5 linked regions of the Homo sapiens genome follow. The protein of the gene in region 4 purifies or fractionates together with the protein of the main gene of each other region. This does not show direct contact. Each region holds a gene or a part of one and is shown on either strand. Other genes may lie near its edges.

The links.
Region 1: the proteins of TAF8 (region 4) and MOAP1 purify together in Homo sapiens (co-immunoprecipitation; one large-scale study listed by IntAct). This does not show direct contact.
Region 2: the proteins of TAF8 (region 4) and TAF9B purify together in Homo sapiens (affinity purification with mass spectrometry; 4 studies listed by BioGRID and IntAct, with this or other methods). This does not show direct contact.
Region 3: the proteins of TAF8 (region 4) and ATE1 purify together in Homo sapiens (co-immunoprecipitation; one large-scale study listed by IntAct). This does not show direct contact.
Region 5: the proteins of TAF8 (region 4) and ZDHHC17 purify together in Homo sapiens (affinity purification with mass spectrometry; 3 studies listed by BioGRID and IntAct, with this or other methods). This does not show direct contact.

Annotation. Positions count from the first base shown.
Region 1 is NC_000014.9:93,182,081-93,186,305, forward strand, and holds MOAP1 (modulator of apoptosis 1), read right to left. Parts: upstream 2,818-4,225; 5' UTR 2,730-2,817; intron 2,634-2,729; 5' UTR 2,479-2,633; intron 2,283-2,478; 5' UTR 2,163-2,282; coding exon 1,107-2,162; 3' UTR 119-1,106; downstream 1-118. Other genes in the region: LYSET (lysosomal enzyme trafficking factor), read left to right, coding at 3,326-3,405, 4,180-4,225.
Region 2 is NC_000023.11:78,129,641-78,133,158, reverse strand, and holds the end of TAF9B (transcription initiation factor TFIID subunit 9B), read left to right. Parts: intron 1-1,385; coding exon 1,386-1,549; 3' UTR 1,550-3,411; downstream 3,412-3,518. UniProt on the Homo sapiens protein: Essential for cell viability. TAF9 and TAF9B are involved in transcriptional activation as well as repression of distinct but overlapping sets of genes. May have a role in gene regulation associated with apoptosis.
Region 3 is NC_000010.11:121,739,923-121,743,048, forward strand, and holds the end of ATE1 (arginyl-tRNA--protein transferase 1), read right to left. Parts: 3' UTR 502-3,126; downstream 1-501. UniProt on the Homo sapiens protein: Involved in the post-translational conjugation of arginine to the N-terminal aspartate or glutamate of a protein. This arginylation is required for degradation of the protein via the ubiquitin pathway. Does not arginylate cysteine residues.
Region 4 is NC_000006.12:42,064,006-42,067,523, reverse strand, and holds part of TAF8 (transcription initiation factor TFIID subunit 8), read right to left. Parts: intron 1,213-3,518; coding exon 1,065-1,212; intron 1-1,064. UniProt on the Homo sapiens protein: The TFIID basal transcription factor complex plays a major role in the initiation of RNA polymerase II (Pol II)-dependent transcription.
Region 5 is NC_000012.12:76,847,597-76,851,114, reverse strand, and holds part of ZDHHC17 (palmitoyltransferase ZDHHC17), read right to left. Parts: intron 2,883-3,518; coding exon 2,725-2,882; intron 1,740-2,724; coding exon 1,645-1,739; intron 269-1,644; coding exon 130-268; 3' UTR 1-129. UniProt on the Homo sapiens protein: Palmitoyltransferase that catalyzes the addition of palmitate onto various protein substrates and is involved in a variety of cellular processes.

The sequences.
Region 1 (4,225 bases), on a different chromosome or scaffold from region 4:
AGAGTCCAAGGAACTAAGTCTGTGTAGGTTCAGTGGTTTGCAGATTCATGCTTTGGGAACTCTTTATTCAAATGAAATCTCTCTTGGAACCGTGATATAAACAAAACAGACAAAGTCATTTTATTAGCATTCCTTTATTTTAGAAGTTCACACCTATAATTTTATAACAATCGTGAAAATGTTACTCAGAACTAGATGTTTTGATGACACATAGCAGAAATCTGTGGTTCAAGATGGTCATTGCAAACTTAACCAATCTCAGCATTCTATTCTGCCTTTTGTTTTGATTGCACAGAATCAATATAATTCTGATTCATATGGAAAATAACTTAATATCTTAACCTCCGCTCAGGATCTTCATCATAAATGTAGGTCAGTACATACCTAAAAATTGTCAATGATCCAACATGGTCACATGTGACATGCTACACTTGCACCTAGTACCAAACAAGCTGATACTTCAATGAGATCTGGTTGGCATATACACCCAAGCCTTGTCTGTCCCCTCAGAGCACTGCACACAGATAGTGAAAGAACTTGTGTACAATAAGAAATTCACAGGGATGAGGCTGGGCGCAGTGTCTCACGCCTGTAATCCCAGCACTTTCAGAGGCCGAAGCAGGTGGATCACTTGAGGTCAGGAGTTCGAAACTAGCCTGGCCAACATGGTGAAACCCCGTCTCTACTGATAATGCAAAACTTAGCTGGGCGTGGTGGCACATGCCTGTAGTCCCAGCTACTCGGGCAACTGAGGCAGGAGAATAGCTTAAACCTGGAAGGCGGAGGATGCAGTGAGCCAAGATCACGCCACTGCACTCCAGCCTGGGTGACAGAGCGAGACTCTGTCTCAACAACAACAACAAAGATATTCACAAGGATGAATTTAAATAGGTAAATGGCAGTGTAGAACTACATCCTTCCTAGTCAATTACACCTTTAGGAGACTTTAAATAGGCACAGAAACGACAAAGGGCTTATACTGAGAATTGCACAAAAATGAGTTACTTGGCAGCACAAGGTAGGGATTGTATGTGTCACAAGAGTATATAGACTGTTCTACCTTCATGCTCTACTCATTGCCATATCCCTTCGTGGTTCCCTGAGACTCAGGTGAAATTACCTTCCAATATTGCCTGGAGAAGGGCCTCCTCCTCCTCAGCTGCCTCATAATCCTTTATTAGTACCAATAACTGCAAGAAACCAGGGGCTGGGCCATCCTCTGGCAGATTAAGCTCTCTGCGAATTGTTTTGTGGACTGCCCCAGCAATGACTTGGTCTAGGCGGGCCTGATTCACAGCATCTCTCTCAATTGCTCCTCTCTGTACCAGCTTCTGTAACAAAGGCTCCAGCCTTAGTACATAAGCCGACAACTTTTCCTCATCCTTCTGGTAAGTGGTTAGATATTTGACCTGCAACTCCCTAGGATTATCTGTAACCCCAAATACCTCCTCAAGAGCCTGCAGACATTCATCGACAGTAATTAAAGGATTGTTTATCTTGAGGACACGAATAACATCAAGTGCTGGGCCTCGAAGGCTCTCTAGCAATCGCCTTCTCTTCTCTACATCTGGCACCTGCCACGCCTTTATCATCTGAGTAGTATGAAACATCCAGCGTCCAAATTCTTCTTCTCCTGGTTCTGGAGACTCCCTGCCCGAGAACACTCTCAGCTTTTTATACTTCAAGCATTGCAGGGCAGGCTGAAGAGCCTCTAATGCCTGTGCCAACATAGGGGCCCACATTTCCGGGATCATGCCCTGCTCTGGGTCTAAGGAGCCATTTTCATGTCCAAGAGCTCTGCTCAACTCACCCACTGTCATGCCCTCTCCCGCTAAAAATTCATTTAATCTGCTTAAAAATGTATTATCTGGGTCAGGGGGCTTAAAGATCACTCTCCAGATACCCCCTTTTCCCGGTATCTCCTTAGGGACCAGGGCGTGACTAGTCTCCGCAGTAAGCCCTACTAAGGCTACTTTCCTGTTCTCATCCCTCCTGAACATCCTTCCAAGCAGTCTGTACTCCCCCAAGGGAGCTAAACCAGCCTGCAGAGCCTCCTCGATTTCTGCCACACTGCAGCTCTGGGAGATGCCGGCAATCAATAGCGCTTTCCGAGGGTTCATGTCCATCCCCCTGCACCAGTCTTCTAAAAGCCTCAAAGTCATGGTGCCCGAAATAATAGACTTAAGTTCTAAATATGCCAGACCACAGGCGACCACCGAAATTCAAAGTAATCCTCCGCGGTACCCCAGAGAAATCTTGTCAACGTGCCGAGGTCCAGCAGCCTGCAAGACAGAGCAGACAGGTTAGCTAAAGGTGCCAACGTCCAGGGCAAGCGTGCAGGCCCCAAGCCCCGCGCGCCCTGCCCCCAGCGGCGACGCCAGGGCAGCCGCACTGCGGCGCGCGCCCCTCACCCCTCCCAGCCCTGGTGCCTGGCGGATGTCGGGCCTGCAGGGCCGCGTCGGGCCCGCTTCCACTCACCGTGATCTAGTGCTCGTGCCCGCGTCCGTGCGCCGGCGGCCAAGGTGCCTGGCCGGGCCCCGACGAGGCGCGGGAGGGCAGGCTCCCCTAGGCTCTGACGGACACTCGGGGGCCACAGCGACCGATGCCGGTACTCCAGGTGCCTGTGGTACTGTCTGCAACGAGAAGTGATGGGGCGATGACAGTCGCGAGCGGGCACCAGGGGGCAAGGCTGAGGAGCGCTGAGTCGCCAGACCCAGAGAGCCACCCACCTGGAGGGACGTGCCGCCACCCGCGCCGCCGGAGCTCCGGCTCCAGCCCGGATTCCACCTGTTTTGGTCTCGCTCGGGGAAGCTGCGCGGCGGGCGGGGGCGATCTGACGTCATGAGGGGCGGGCCTCGGGGGCGGGGCGCGCGCGCTTCCGGCCCGAGCCGGAAGCTCCGACTGCGGCGGCATCCGGGACGGCGGGCGGGCTGGCCACCACGGGACAGGAAGGTGAGATCCGGGACCTCAGCTTTGCAAGCAGGCTCCGCCGGCGACCGCTGACGGGCGCTGGGCTCGCGGCGCTGCAAGGCGGCGAGGCCCGGGCCTGGCGCCGCCTGCGCAGCCTTGGTCGCGGCGTGCCGGCGCTGCAGCGCGGCAGGGGGCGGGGCCGGCCGCCCGGAGGCCCAAGTGGCGGGGACGCCTCCCTGCCGGGTCAGGTTCTCAGAGCGGGTCTCCGGCGGCGGCGACGGGGGCCGGGCCGCGCGTGACCCGCCGCAGTCACGCCGTTCTTAATCACTAGTAGCTGGTGCTCCAGGCTGGCGGCGCTCACCTTTCTCCTAGCCGGGTGACCCAGGGGATTTATTTTATGTTGGCTTTCTCTGAAATGCCAAAGCCACCCGATTATTCAGAGCTGAGTGACTCTTTAACGCTTGCCGTGGGAACAGGAAGATTTTCGGGACCATTGTAAGTGCTTAGGAGTTACTGTCTTAACTTGGGGGCTTGACTTGTAGCACCCCGCGTTCACGTCTGAAGCAGTACTGTTATGCCAGAAAGTGTTTCACCTGTCAAAGTGAAATGTGCTGTGAGAAACTAGTTTAATTCCAGTTTCTGGAGGGCGGGTATTATGGACCTGTTTAAGTAGGATGCAGTGATTTATTCTGAGGGATTCCCGTTAAAAAGCAGAACTCAGTATATACTGAAATCAATGGTTTTTTGTTTTTTTGTGTGTGTTGTTTTACTTGATTGTAAGTATTACACAAAACAACCTGTAAGTTTTACATTTCTTAATAGGTGTTTAATTTAATTATTTTAAATCTTAAGTGTGTTAGTGGGATATTTTAGAATTCTTTTTTTTTTTTTTTAATTAGACAGAGTCTCGCTCTGTCGCCCAGGCTGGAGTGCAGTGGCGTGATCTCGGCTCTCTGCAAGCTCTGCCTCCTGGGTTCACGCCATTCTCCTGCCTCAGCCTCCCGAGTAGCTGGGACTACAGGTGCCCGCCACCACGCCCGGCTATTTTTTTTGTATTTTTAGTAGAGACGGGATTTCACCATGTTAGCCAGGATGGTCTCTATCACCTGACCTCGTGATCCACCCGCCTCAGCCTCCCAAAGTGCTGGGATTACAGGCGCGAGCCACCGCGCCCGGCCTAGAATTCTTGGAGATAAAGCAAGTACATTTGGAGTAGTTGCCGTGACAGCATTACTAGACCCTAATTGTATTTTCTTTTTTAATTTGAAGGCACAGAGCATGGAGAATGATGAACTTCCGTCAGCGGATGGGATGG
Region 2 (3,518 bases), on a different chromosome or scaffold from region 4:
TAAAGTAGTCTCCCCCCTTATCCTTGAGGGATTGTTCCAAGACCCCCAGTTAAATTTACAACCTTTAAAGTTAAATTTATAAACTTTCTAAATTATAAGGTTTAATTTATAAATTAGGCACGGCAAGAAATTAACAATAATTAATTAACAATTACAACAACATACTGTAATAAAATATATGTGAGTGTGATCTCTCAAAGTATCTTACTGTACTGTACTCATCTATTTTTGGATCGCAGTTGACCACAAGTAGCTGAAACTGCAGATAAGGGGGGACTACTATATATGTAACGTTTTGGGGAGGAGGGAAAGAGTATTCAGTGTGTTCATCAGATTTTCAAAGAACACCGTCAGCTAAACAGTTAGGGTCCACAAATCTAAGTCGTCTTCAAGGAAAAGCAGTTAAGGTAAAAGCTCAAGAAAGCGACAAAACTTAGTGATGAATATGTGTATGCAATCCAGAACATAAATGTAAATTCAAATGAAATTGTACCTTTACTTCATAGGATACACACACACACACACACACACACACACACACACACACAGATTGGAATAAGAATTCTGTCATAGCACAGTTTACTAATGTGTATGTCTAGATTTCATATCTTCTGAAACCTAACCACACACAATAAGCAACTAACGTAAAATACTGGCCTATTAGGGAAGTGATTCCTGACCTTGAACATAGGCCTTTGTTTAATATGTTGCATGATGAATCCAGTGCAGTTTCCCATGACTAAATTGAAATTCTAGGTTGTTAAAATACAACAGAACTTCTTCAACCTTGTACTAGATATGTTTAATCTTTATCTATACATAGATCAGAACATCACATTATATCCCGTACATATACACAATTATTGGCAGGGTACAATGGCTCACACCTGTAATCCCAGCACTTTGGGAGACCGAGGCGGGAGGATCACTTGAGGCCAGGAGTTCGAGACCAGCCTGGCCAACGTGGTGAAACCCCGTCTCTACTGAAAATACAAAAATTAGCCAGGTTTGGTGGTACACGCCTATAATCCCGGCTACTTGGGAACCTGAGGCACGAGAATCACTTGAACTCAGGAGGCGGAGGTTGCAGTGAGCCAAGATCACGCCAGCTTGGACGACAGAGCGAGACACTGTCTCAAAAAAATAGTAATTTAAAAATAAATACACAATTATTATTTGCCAATTAAAAATAAAGATTTTTTAAAATTTAATTCAACTCATTGCAGTATAAGTACCTATGTTTCTTCTATGATATAGTTGCACTTCATGCTATTGAAATTGGTATTAGAATTACATTCAGCTTTGTTGTATACTTTTTATCATATGTTTCAGATTCTGGGTAATTCATAGCTTGGTTTTGGGGGGGCTTTCTTCTCTGTTTACAGTTCCTGCAACAACTGCAGTTCAAAATGTTCTGATTAATCCTTCAATGATTGGGCCCAAAAATATTCTTATTACCACCAACATGGTTTCGTCACAGAACACAGCCAATGAAGCAAACCCACTGAAGAGAAAACATGAAGATGATGATGACAATGATATTATGTAAGGAATATAGTCTAGTCTAGATGCATTTCAAAAGGAAAGTTGGTTTTGAGCCCAGTATACTGAACTAGAATATTCTAGATCTTGTTTTACCTTAAAAGACTGAAATGTAGCTGCAGTATTTTTCGTCAGTTAAAACTGTTAGATCTCTTTAGTAAACATACAAATGTGTTTTTCAGTAGGCTTCAATTACAAACAGTTAAGTACTTGTTTCTTAATAGTTTCATTAATGTTGAGTCCTAATATGGCAATTCTGTTTTTGAGACACTTTTCTGCCTTCTATCACTGATAGTAGCATTTAAGTTTCAGATTCTACAGCCTAGTCAGCAGATTTATCTTTGACAGCATAATTTCTGATCTACATTTAAATACTACTTTATTTTATAAGGTAATATAGTTACTTACTGTCACTAGCTAATTTTTTTTTTTTTACCAAATCTCTCAATATAGGAAACATTTTTTGGAAAGGATGGATTTAGAGGAGAGATTCTAAATCCATTTTGGATGTATTTGTTTCTTTGACTTCCTTAACTTCCAAACTCAACTCCCTTTCTAGATCCCATTCATTTTCTGCACCTCCCCCATAGGCTTGTTTCTCTCCATTGCTATTAAATGTAGAAGGCCATACCTGGAATTTTAAAAATATTATTCCTGGTAATACAGCTCAGTGTCATTTTCCTATTTTTAAAACATGCTCTACATGCCTAATGTTTTGTGATTCACTTTAACCTGATGGTTTGCATTTGCTGTTTTTCACTCTTATGTCAGAGCAGTTGGGTTTTACCCCTTAGTTTTTATGCCTGTTAAGCTTTACTGTGCTTTTGACAGGTAGTTTTGGGTCAGTTATATTCAGTTTTAGTATTGTATTCCAAGTTGATAACTCTTCCATGTTTCACATTTCTAAATTTAACAGAGATGCTGTAGCTTAAAACATGTTTTGATAAGTAATTACACTGGACCTAGGCAAAACCACTGAAGAACAAGTGTTCCTTTTTACCACATACATATTATGTTTTGATCACTGCTGCTTGAGCCCCGCTATTGGTATAATTCAGATCATTTTAGCTTGTTGCTGAGGATGTCACATATAAGACAGGATCAAACCTGAAAGACACTAATGGTTCATCCTCTATAAGGCCAACAAAGAAAACAAATTAATGTGATGTAACTTGCATTTATGTGCACTCTGCATAGGTTTCCCAATAATACTGTAATGTTGCTGAACACCTTTCCCTGTTTTCCATTTATACACATATTAAAGTCATATTGGGAAAGATGGCAAAGCTTTTGAGAATATAAACACACCTGTTTTGTTTTTCTTAAGTTCAACATACTTTTGTAGAATTTGTAAAATAAATGTTCGTATCATAATTGAGAATTTATAGCCAAGGATCCTCAAAACAGAAGTTTCATCTTAGGATAGTGTTTGATATATCTAAGAAAGTCCAGTAACAGAGAAGAAATGTCTCAAATGTCTCGTATCAGTTTTAGTGTTTTTCAGTATTAGGGAAAGGTAATATAAAAACAGGTAAAATGTATAAAAATAGACCTGATCAACATCATAGGAGATAAATATTCATTATATAGCATAGGATATTATTACTTGAATGTTCTCAGGGAGGCAGCAAGTCAGAAGGCCTAGGTTCTAGTCCTAGCTCCATCATTTACCAACTGTGTGACCTTACTTCACCTCTTAGCCTTGTTCTCCTCACTAGCAGTAGGAAAGTAACACCTACCCTGCCTACCTCACAGGGCTGTTGTGAGGGTTCAATTGGTATATGTGAAAATTCTTTCAGAATTGTAAAATGCTATATGACTGTAAGGAATTATTGCATTTGTTCCAAGGTTAATAAAAATTTGAGCTTATCAGTGTTTTCATTTTTTAGGATTCAAGGGAGATGAACAAAGCCCAGTAATTCTGATGGCCAAAGACCAGTAAGATTTGTTTAATGGTTATATATCAGAAAATCACT
Region 3 (3,126 bases), on a different chromosome or scaffold from region 4:
GGGAATTGTAACTAATATTTAAATCACTTGGAAATAGGATTCATTTTATCACCAACCTACCAGGACCCTCTTTACTGTAAAGAGATAAAACACTAGTAAATGTATTGCATAAATATACCACAGACTATTATGAACAATTAAAGCACACTTTATATTTTTTAAAATTTCTCTGTAAACGTTCTAAGATAAATTATATTTGAATTTGATAAAGTCCTATTTTGAATCCCTTTGGGTTATAAAAGTCTATTCCCTAATTTATCTTGTGAAAATCCAGACTTCTGGCTTAAAATGGGATTTACTTTACTCTCTGAGAAAGGAATCCACCGTACTTTGATTTAGATAACCACATGGTCTGGAACTCCATTTAGTGAAAATTAAATTTTATGACTCATATAGCCAATGTTTTACCTCTGTTTTCTACATATTCACAGCAGGTGAAATGTGTTCAGGAATTTAAAGATGAAAACATATGTCTTTTAAGTAATGACCACCAAGAGCCACTGCAGATAGAAACAGCTTTATTTTTTCCATTCAGGCTTTATCAAATAGCTTGTTCAAAAAGCATATACAAGAGCAAAAAATACCACATGCAGTCAAACTTCTTTTGCCTTATAGTCATTGGCTTTCTTTTAGAAAAGAGTGTGCACTTGAATAACTTCTAATTCAAACATTTTCCAACTGTTTCTACTTCATTTTTCAAGTTAGCAACGACAGATACATTTTAGTTAACTGTTTCATATTCCTTATCTTTATTCATACTGAAATAATATAAAGCCTATAAAATCAAAGCATATACTGTTCAGAAATCTGGAAAGGTTCTTTTACATAATAGATTCTGACACGTTAAGAAACTACACACAACAAATATTTGCAAAATGAATGAAAAATAGGATAAAGCTATTTAAAAGTCAACATAGTAATATTTATCTAAATAATTTTAATCAAATGTACAACATATTTATCTGATATCATCTATCTTTTAGAATACAAAAAAGTGCTCAGATTACATTTAAAAAAATAACAAAAATCTCTTAGAATGGAAATAATTTAAATAAGGACGGTAGCAAGGGGAATTGAAATTACATCTTTGCTCCCAAAACAGGAAGGCAGGTGTGATGTATTTGAAAATCAGAAAGGGACACAACACTAAGATTGCAAATGCAAAGCTTCCTGCCTTGGAAAGATATAAACTGTCTTTGAAAAGTCCTTGTGTCTTTCTTTACAGAAAGTTACGAACATAAAATCAGATCTCTCAGCTAGACTGCTGGTCAAGTAACAAGGTGGGTCACTTTTCTTGACTATGCTTTTCTAGTCCACTATCAGTATTCACTCAGCTGGGGCTCAAAAGGACAAATAGGTGTCCTTTTAAGACACTTTGACTACTTGGATCAATACACTAGCTATTCTCAAACCAACATAATGCATGAATACAGCAGCCAAGTAGAAGGATCTCCAATGCTCAAGTCACTCTGAGTCTTTGCTGGTGTCAACCTACAATGCCACCCTCAAGGAAAGCACAGTGGTTCACAGACAGGGATGATTCATCATTTTCCTCTGAAAATGAATTCTGCAGGAAGAAACCAGAGTTGTGGTAAGATGTTGGAGTCAAGTTTTCTCTTCATCTGATATTCAAGGGTTGTGATCTTTATGAATACCATTTTACATGCTAATCACAAAGACAAATGGAGGGAAGATACAGTGATAACACCAAGTTGGACATTCAAATGCTAAGCGAGCCAAGTACCAGCCCTACCCTGCTTATTTTTAATAATGCAGAGATTACTTACTACACTTTCTGAAGCCTTATTTTGAAATTTATTTCACATTTCAGACATGTCCATAATTTACTGTTGAGGAAATAAAACAGCATGTAGAACATAATTCTATTTATATTAAAATTACATAGGTATGTGTGTATACATACATGACAGTTCTTTTCTCCTTCTGAGTATGGTAGGGTTGTAGATGATTTTTACTTTTTATTTATACTTCTTAATGTTCTAACTGCTTACAGTGTCACTTTTGTTATAATCATAAAATGAAGCTCTTTTCATTTTAGAGGAAAAAGAGAAAAAAGGCTCTATAGATTCTGAAGGCAGTTCCAAGTAAGTCTCTCAAATGCTCTTACGAGACTACTTTGCAGGTCAAAATCCCAGAAAAATGTAAAATCTTGTGATCAGAGAAAATGGCTTTGCTCACTACTCTAGCTCGGTTAGCAGAGTACGCAGCACCTTGGCAGGTGTGACACACACACTCTGAATGAAGAAATGCGGCTGACTTGGATGTTGAGTTTCTAGAGATTTCAGTTTTAAAATCATTGTTTTATGATCCTTTTTATTCTAGTTAGCTGAGGATATTTTCAAATTTTTGTCAAAATTCAGTACATTTTAGAGGAAAGTTTAAAATTAGCAACAGGATTCAAACTACCATGTTTTATAACATGGCTTTTAAGAAACGATGAACCAAAACAGAAAAATGGGCAAAGTGGGGACTAAAAACGGCTTGCTGGCCAAATAGCTGGTAGCAGAAGAGGGGATCAGCTGACAAAGAGGGCACAAGAAAATAACCCTCCTGTTTTTCATCCTGTTTCCCAGACAGCTCGACTATAGCTAAGAAGGGACATGTCTGACTGTCCTCCTGTACCCAGCACAGTGCCTGCCACCTTGACAGGTGGGCAAAGGACTCAGCAAAAGAAAGTGAGGGAAGGAGGGGGCTGGCCTCTGCTCTGAGTTACTAAGGGTGGCAGAAGCCACCCTGACTGTGACTCTCAAATCAAAGGACAAGAAATGGATTGTTCTAGCTCTTGTCCTGGAACAGAGGTCGGAATGATTCCTTCTTCAATGTGATTTGTGGCATAACTATGAAAGTAATCACATACTAATTTCCATTAATAACCAAAGACAAATGTCCTGAGTTGTAAGATAAAAAACTAGTGACTATTTATTTCCTTTGGATGAGACTTAGATCAAGGCAGGAACCAACATTTTTCTTTAAAAAAATTCAATTTCTTACATTTTTAGAAGTAAAGCAAATAATATAACTAGAGTAATTATGTATTTTATTGTCCAAACTGGGATATTTTTTAGAGTAAAAGGGAGTACTATATTCTAGGGGAAAAAACTATGC
Region 4 (3,518 bases):
TCTAGAATTGGCTGGGTGTGGTGGCTCATGCCTATAATCCCAGCACTTTGGGAGGCTGAGGCAGGCAGATCACTTGAGCTCAGGAGTTCAAGACCAACCTGGCCAACTGGGTGAAACCCCGTCTCTACTAAAAATACAAAAAATTAGCTGGGTGTGGTGGCTCCTGCCTGTAGTCCCAGCTACTTGCTGAAGCAGAAGAATCGCTGGAACCCGGGAGGCGGAGGTTGCAGTGAGCAGAGATTGCGCCACTGTATTCCAGGCTGGATGACAAAGCAAGACTCTGTCTCAAAAAAACCCACAAAAACTCCAGAATTATTTTTGCTGTGGGTCAGATGTGGGGTCCTGCAGTAAGAGCTAGGTTTGAATGATGTCTACTAGCCATGTTCCTTGAGGAAGTGACTTCATTTCTCTTCTCTTGTGCCTCATTGAAGGGTTCCTATGAAGGTAGTGATATATCAGTTCCCAACTCAGAGGCTCACAAGAGGATTTAATGAGATAATGTATGGGAAATGATGAGCACAGTATCTGGCACTTAACAACCGGCAGCTGCTGTTATTCCAGAGCCAGGCACACAGCGGGCGTTCCACAGGAGCTTGCTGAATGAATGAATCACCCAAACCAACCTCCCTCACTCACATTTGTAAAAACTGAGGTCTTTGGAAATGAAGTAGCTTGGTCAACATGGCCAAATAGTGCTGAGATGCCAAGTTAAATGAGGTGGGACCTACGAGGGAACATCACGATGGGCAACTGGCCCCTGATGCCAATGTTCTTCTACTACCTGGGCTGCCACCAAGTGTCTCTGATGCCTAGGCCTAGGCTACCCTCAAGGTAACTCTATGGACCTCAAGCAGCCAGTCCCAACAGAGACCATTACTGTTTTGGAGTCGTCAGTTAAGGACAGACTCTTAAGACCTGGGGAAGGGAGCCAGAAATCTGAGAGGCAAGCTGTACCCAAGGGAAGGACAAAAGCTTATTTGTTTCTTCCTACCATGCTGAGAGAAAGAAAAGATAATGTGAGTGTTTCAAATAAGACAGGGTCCACACAGTGGGGCAACTCTCACATGGAAATGTGCTGACGTCATCTTTGAAAAGACTCTGAGTCTCGCCTGTCTTGGCCATGAAACGGGTAAGTGCCCGCTCCACATCGCGCCTCTGGGATGCAGCCTTCTCCCGCAGGACCTGGTAGTCTGACACGGGCTCACGGTACGTCTACGAAGAGAGCAGCAAAGACACTGGGGTGATGCCGAAGTATCATTCTGCTTTCATCAGCTCCCTGGCTTGCTGTTGCTATGCCCTGTTCTCTAAAATGACCCAATACCAGGCCAGGCACAGTGGCTCACACCTGTAATCCCAGCACTTTGGGAGGCCAAGGCTGGTGGATCACCTGAGATCAGGAGTTTGAGACCAGCCTGGCCAACATAACGAAACCCCGTCTCTACCAAAAATACAAAAATTAGCTGGGTGTGGTGGTGGGCACCAGTAATCCCAGCTACTTGGGAGGCTGAGGCAGGAGAATCGCTTGAACCCAGGAGGCGGAGGTTGCAGTGAGCCGAGACTGCATCATTGCACTCCAGCCTGTGCAGCAGGAGCGAGACTCTGTCTCAAAAAATAAATAAATAAATAAAATTAAATTAAATGACCCAATACTATTAGTTAGAGCCAAGATCACCAAAGCACAGTAGAAAGGTGGAAAAACAATGTAACTACATTAATATTCATTTCTAATTAAAAATTAAGAAATGTACAAATATTTACTGTAGAGATTGTCTTGGAGCCTTCATTCAGCTCCCATGACAGATGGTCTCGGGTCTAAGAGACGCATCGTGAAGAAAGAGTGGGAGTGCCCCCAGGGAAGCCCTGATGGGGACCACAGGTTCCATCAGCGCAATGTGACCTCCTGCAGTATGGGAGTGGCTGCCTATGTGGACTTGTGGATTATACCATCCCATCTTATTAAATCAATCCTCACAATATGGATACATTGTTCCAAAAAGATTCCCTCAAAGAAAGAGAGGCTGAAGATCTTATTATACGTGCAAGTGACCAAGAAAACGGCAGGCTGCTACTCTTCCTCCTAATTATGAGCTTGCTGGCAATCAAGTTATGGAGTGAAAATGATTGAGATCAGAATGAGAAATGAGCCAAAACTTTTTATTTTATTATTTTTATTTTTTGGAGACAGAGTCTTGCTCTGTCACCCAGGCTGGAGTGCAGTGGCGCCATCTCAGCTCACTGCAACCTCCACCTCCTGGGTTCAAGCGATTCTCCTGCCTCAGACTCCTGAGTAGCTGGGACTACAGGCACGTGCCACCATGCCCAGCTAATTTTTGTATTTTTAGTAGAGATGGGGTTTCATCATGTTGGCCAGGCTGGTCTCGAACTCCTGACCTCAGATGATCCACCCACCTTGGCCTCCCAAAGTGCTGGGATTACAGGTGTGAGTCACCGCGCCCAGCCGGAAAACATTTTAATTGGTAATGGCAACGGTGACATTTTAACAACGACCAATAAAGTAACTACTCTTCATGATACTGAGATACCATTTTTTTTTTTTTTTTTTTTTTGAGACAGAGTCTTGCTCTGTCACCCAGGCTGGAGTGCAGTGGCGGGATCTCTGCTCACTGCAAGCTCCGCCCCCCGGGTGCATGCCATTCTCCTGCCTCAGCCTCCCGAGTAGCTGGGACTACAGACGCCTGCCACCACTCCTGGCTAATTTTTTTGTATTTTTAGTAGAGACGGGTTTCACTGTGTTTGCCAGGATGGTCTCGATCTCCTGACCTTGTGATCCACCCGCCTCAGCCTCCCAAAGTGCTGGGATTACAGGCTGAGATAGCATTTTTAAAGAAGGCACCTGGAAATGTTTCTTTGTTGTCACCATCAGTTCAAGTGTGTCACCTATACAGTTCTCACATCTGTACTTAAACAAAGAAACAGAATTTTCTGACGTGTTAAAAATCTTCCCAAAAGGCTGGGTGTGGTGGCTCACACCTGTAATCCCAGCACTTTGGGAGGCCGAGGCGGATAGATTACCTGAGGTCAGGAGTTTGAGACTAGCCTGGTCAACATGGTAACACCCGGTCTCTACTAAAAATACAAAAATTAGCCAGGCGTGGTGGTGGGCACCTGTAATCCCAACTACTTGGGGGAGGCTGAGACATGAGAATCGCTTGAACCTGGGAGACAGAGGTTGAAGTGAGCCGAGATCACACCACTGCACTCCAGCCTGGGGGACTGAGCGAGACTCTGTCCACCCCCCACAAAAAAACCCCAAAACTTCCCAATAATAAAATGAGTGGATTTTGAACATATTGTACTTGTTAAAAACATTAAAATGCAAAATCTTGTAATGATTCCTAAGACAACTTTTGGCACTCAATAAATTAGAAATTTAATAGAAAATTTTCAACCAAATTCTTTGGATAATGAGTAAATGAGGATGAAAAAAATTAGTTTTATGATTTATTAAGAGCAGCCAATGATGTTACATATGTTTGTGATGTACCATTTTCAACTAT
Region 5 (3,518 bases), on a different chromosome or scaffold from region 4:
AAAATTCACCATTAGCCCTACACATAGCATGCTCTTGTTCAAAGGATGTGGATTCGAGTGTGAGAAAGACACGGACAGACACAATTTTCAGGCACCACTCAGCAATATGCTTCATAGGATAAGATGTCGCTACACCAGCTGGTACCCAGATCCTGATATTTGGTCATATTCTATTGTATACTGCCTGGTCCAGTCCACGATAACAGGACGAAAGAGGCCACAGCATCGAAATTCAAAGAAGTCTATAATATTTCTTACACATCCATGGCTAAAAACAGCACCCCAAAAAGAAAACACGTCAGTCAGTACAAATGATTTAATACATGAATTCAATATAATTTTCGTGTTAAATATATTTTTTTCTAAACTTAAAAACTCAGGTTACTTGCAAGAAGGAACCAATTCATAACTCTATAAAATATATATGCCTTCATGTTTCTCCACTGCTCTGCCAACAATGATTTTTTCTTTTGCCAATTTAAAGACTTACACAATTATATTTTAAATTTATTCAAATGTGCATATACTTTCTGTGTTATATGCATTTTTATTTTTATTTTTAGAGATGAGGTCTTAACTATGTTGCCCGGCCTGGCCTCGAACTCTGGGCTCAAGCAATCCTCTCACCTCAGCCTCCCAAGTAGCTAGGACTACAGACATGCACCAACATGCCTGGCTCCATATGTAATTTTTGATAAAAACCTTTAATTAGTGGCTCTTTGGCAGGAGACAAACTATCTCTAAAACAGAAAAAAAGTAAAAGACAAAATAATTATAAATAGCATGAATCTGGCAGTGAACCTAAGGATAACAACTTAAAAAAGAAATGTCAAGGATAAGTTCATGAAATTTTAGTACTCCAGTAACACCTTTAGAAAAGCAGTCAGTTTTGGCCAGGTGCGCACCAGTGGTTCACGTCGGTAAGTAATCCTAGCACTTTGGGAGGCCGAGGCGGGTGGATCATGAGGTCAGGAGTTCAGGACCAGCCTGGCCAAGATGGTGAAACCCCATCTCTACTAAAAATACAAAAACTAGCTGGGCGTGGTGCATGCCTGTAATCCCAGCTACTCAGGAGGCTGAGGCAGAGAAGTGCTTAAACCCAGGAGGTGGAGGTAGCAGTGAGCCGAGATCATGCCACTGCACTCCAGCCTGGGTGACAGAGCAAGACTCTGTCTAAAAAAAAGAAAAGAAAAGCAGTCAGTTTTGTGCCTTATATAATTTTTGTACCTATGGGAGAATTCTCAAAACTACCCAACTAACTCTGTTTTTATTTAAAGGTCTGCTTGCTTTCCAGAAGTATGCCATAATTGACAGCACCACAAAAGCTGAAGAGTTGGTAATAACTTCAGTAAAACTCAAAGTTTTAAATATTTCATATACTTAGGACCCTACTATTTCTAAGCACCAGACTGAATACAAATTTAAAATTAAAAAGAAAAAAATATAAGGAGATATCACAACTTTATTATATACAGTTAATGTGATGAATTCTGTTTTGTTGTTATTATGGTGAACTGATGCTATTTCTACAGAAATCTTAAAAAGGTTTAAAAGCTATTTTACATATCACTAAGTAAAAGAGTCTGGTTAGTAAGAAAATTTTTATGACCAGGTAAAATATTAAATTTATAAATATGTACATACTTGAATGGGCTTTCAATAGACGTTGTTGTGACTTTAAAGTGCTTGTATCTCCTGGCATTCATTCTTTCATTTGTAGTAATACCTAAACATGATATCTAAGAGGAAAGAAAAAGCAAACCATTATTCTTGTTTTTTTTTTTTTTTTTTGAGACAGGACCTTGCCCTGTCACCCAGGCTAAAATGCAATGGCGAATTCTCAGCTCCCTCTTGGGTGGGCTCAAGTGATTCCACCCCCGCCACCTCCCCCCACCCCAAAACCCCCACCCCACCAGCAGCTGGGATTACAGGCGCATGCACCATGCCCGGCTAATTTTCTTTTTTTTGTTGGGTTTTTTTTTTTTTTTTTTTTTTTAGAGATAGGGTTTAACCATGTTGCCCAGGCTGATCTCAAACTCCTGGGCTCAAGTGATCCGCCCACCTCGGCTTCCAAGTGCTGGGATTACAGGTGTGAGCCACCATGCCAGGCTGCACAAACCATTATTCTTTCTAAATACTTAATATAAAAAAATTAATTTGAAGAAAACTAGGATAAAGATAAAAACAATGAAGTCTGTTTTTGGTTTTCCATCAGGAGATCATCAGAACTAGTTTACGTGGTATCATTTGACTGTGAAAAGTAGCCAGTTAAATGTGGAAAATATTTAAAGACAGGTTACTTGACACTGTGCATGGACAGGCGCTATTCCTGCACAGACAACCTCCCTATCAGCCTCTCTGAGAATGAGCTTTTAAAAATTAAAAAAAGGCTTTTGAATAAATATTAGTATTTGTGAATAAAAATACCATTAAAAACACAAAATTAATGTCATCATCAATCTGAGCTCACACATACTCAACTGGATGTATTTAAGTCAGGAATAACAGATTAAAATTTCTGTTGAGATAAGTACTAAAATTCAAAAGTTCACAATATGAGAAGAGGAAGGGGCAAAAGAGTGAGGTAGAAAGGAAAACTAAATTGAAAAATAAAATGAATATTTGAAGAGCAGGAGTGGTTAGGAAGAGAATATATTATTATCTTTTATGCAAGGATGGAAGAGTTTTCACTTAGTGCACTAAAAAGAATGCCTTTGCACATACCTGGTACATCTGACACATGAGTAATACAGCCACCCACATGAAGTGGAAAACACTGTTCAGGAACATCCAAAACATCCAAGGTGAACACGTGGCAATCTGAGTAATGTATGTCCAAAATCCATCCTTGGTGTAAGTGGTCTCACAGTGGAGTCCCCAGTCTAAAGCCAGAACAGAAGTACTCGTATTTACTCAATAATCATCCAAGCACCTCATATAGGCATTTGTGCTGGCACCATTTAGAAAACATAGTCAAACAGTCTAGATTTAACTGATGACATTCAATAGCAAATGTCTTTATACTCTTAAATAACCCTATTATATCTCAGTGAAAAAACACAGAAATGGAAAAGGAGCAGCCAATCTTAAAAAAAAATCACTGTATCTTCAGAATTAACAATTTTATTTGATTGGTATTGCATCACATAATACTTAGAAAAACATTTTCTTTACACAAAGATGAGAGGATATATGAAAGAGATTTTTTTGAAAGAGGGCATATAACATAATAGGATGGTGACATGAGCTTTTTTTTCCAGACAAGGTCTCGCTCTGTCACCCAGGCTGGAGTGCAGTGGCTCAATCAAGGCTCACTGCAACCTCGACCTCCTGGACCCAAGCAATCCTCCCACCTCAGCCACCTGAGTAGCTGGGACTACAGGCATGCGCTACCACACCGGGCTAATTTTTGTATTTTTTGTAGAGATGGGGTCTCTCTTCCTACGTTGCCCAGGCTGGTCTCAAACTCCTGGCCTCAACTGGCCCACCTGCCTCTGCCTCCCAAAGTTTTGGGATTA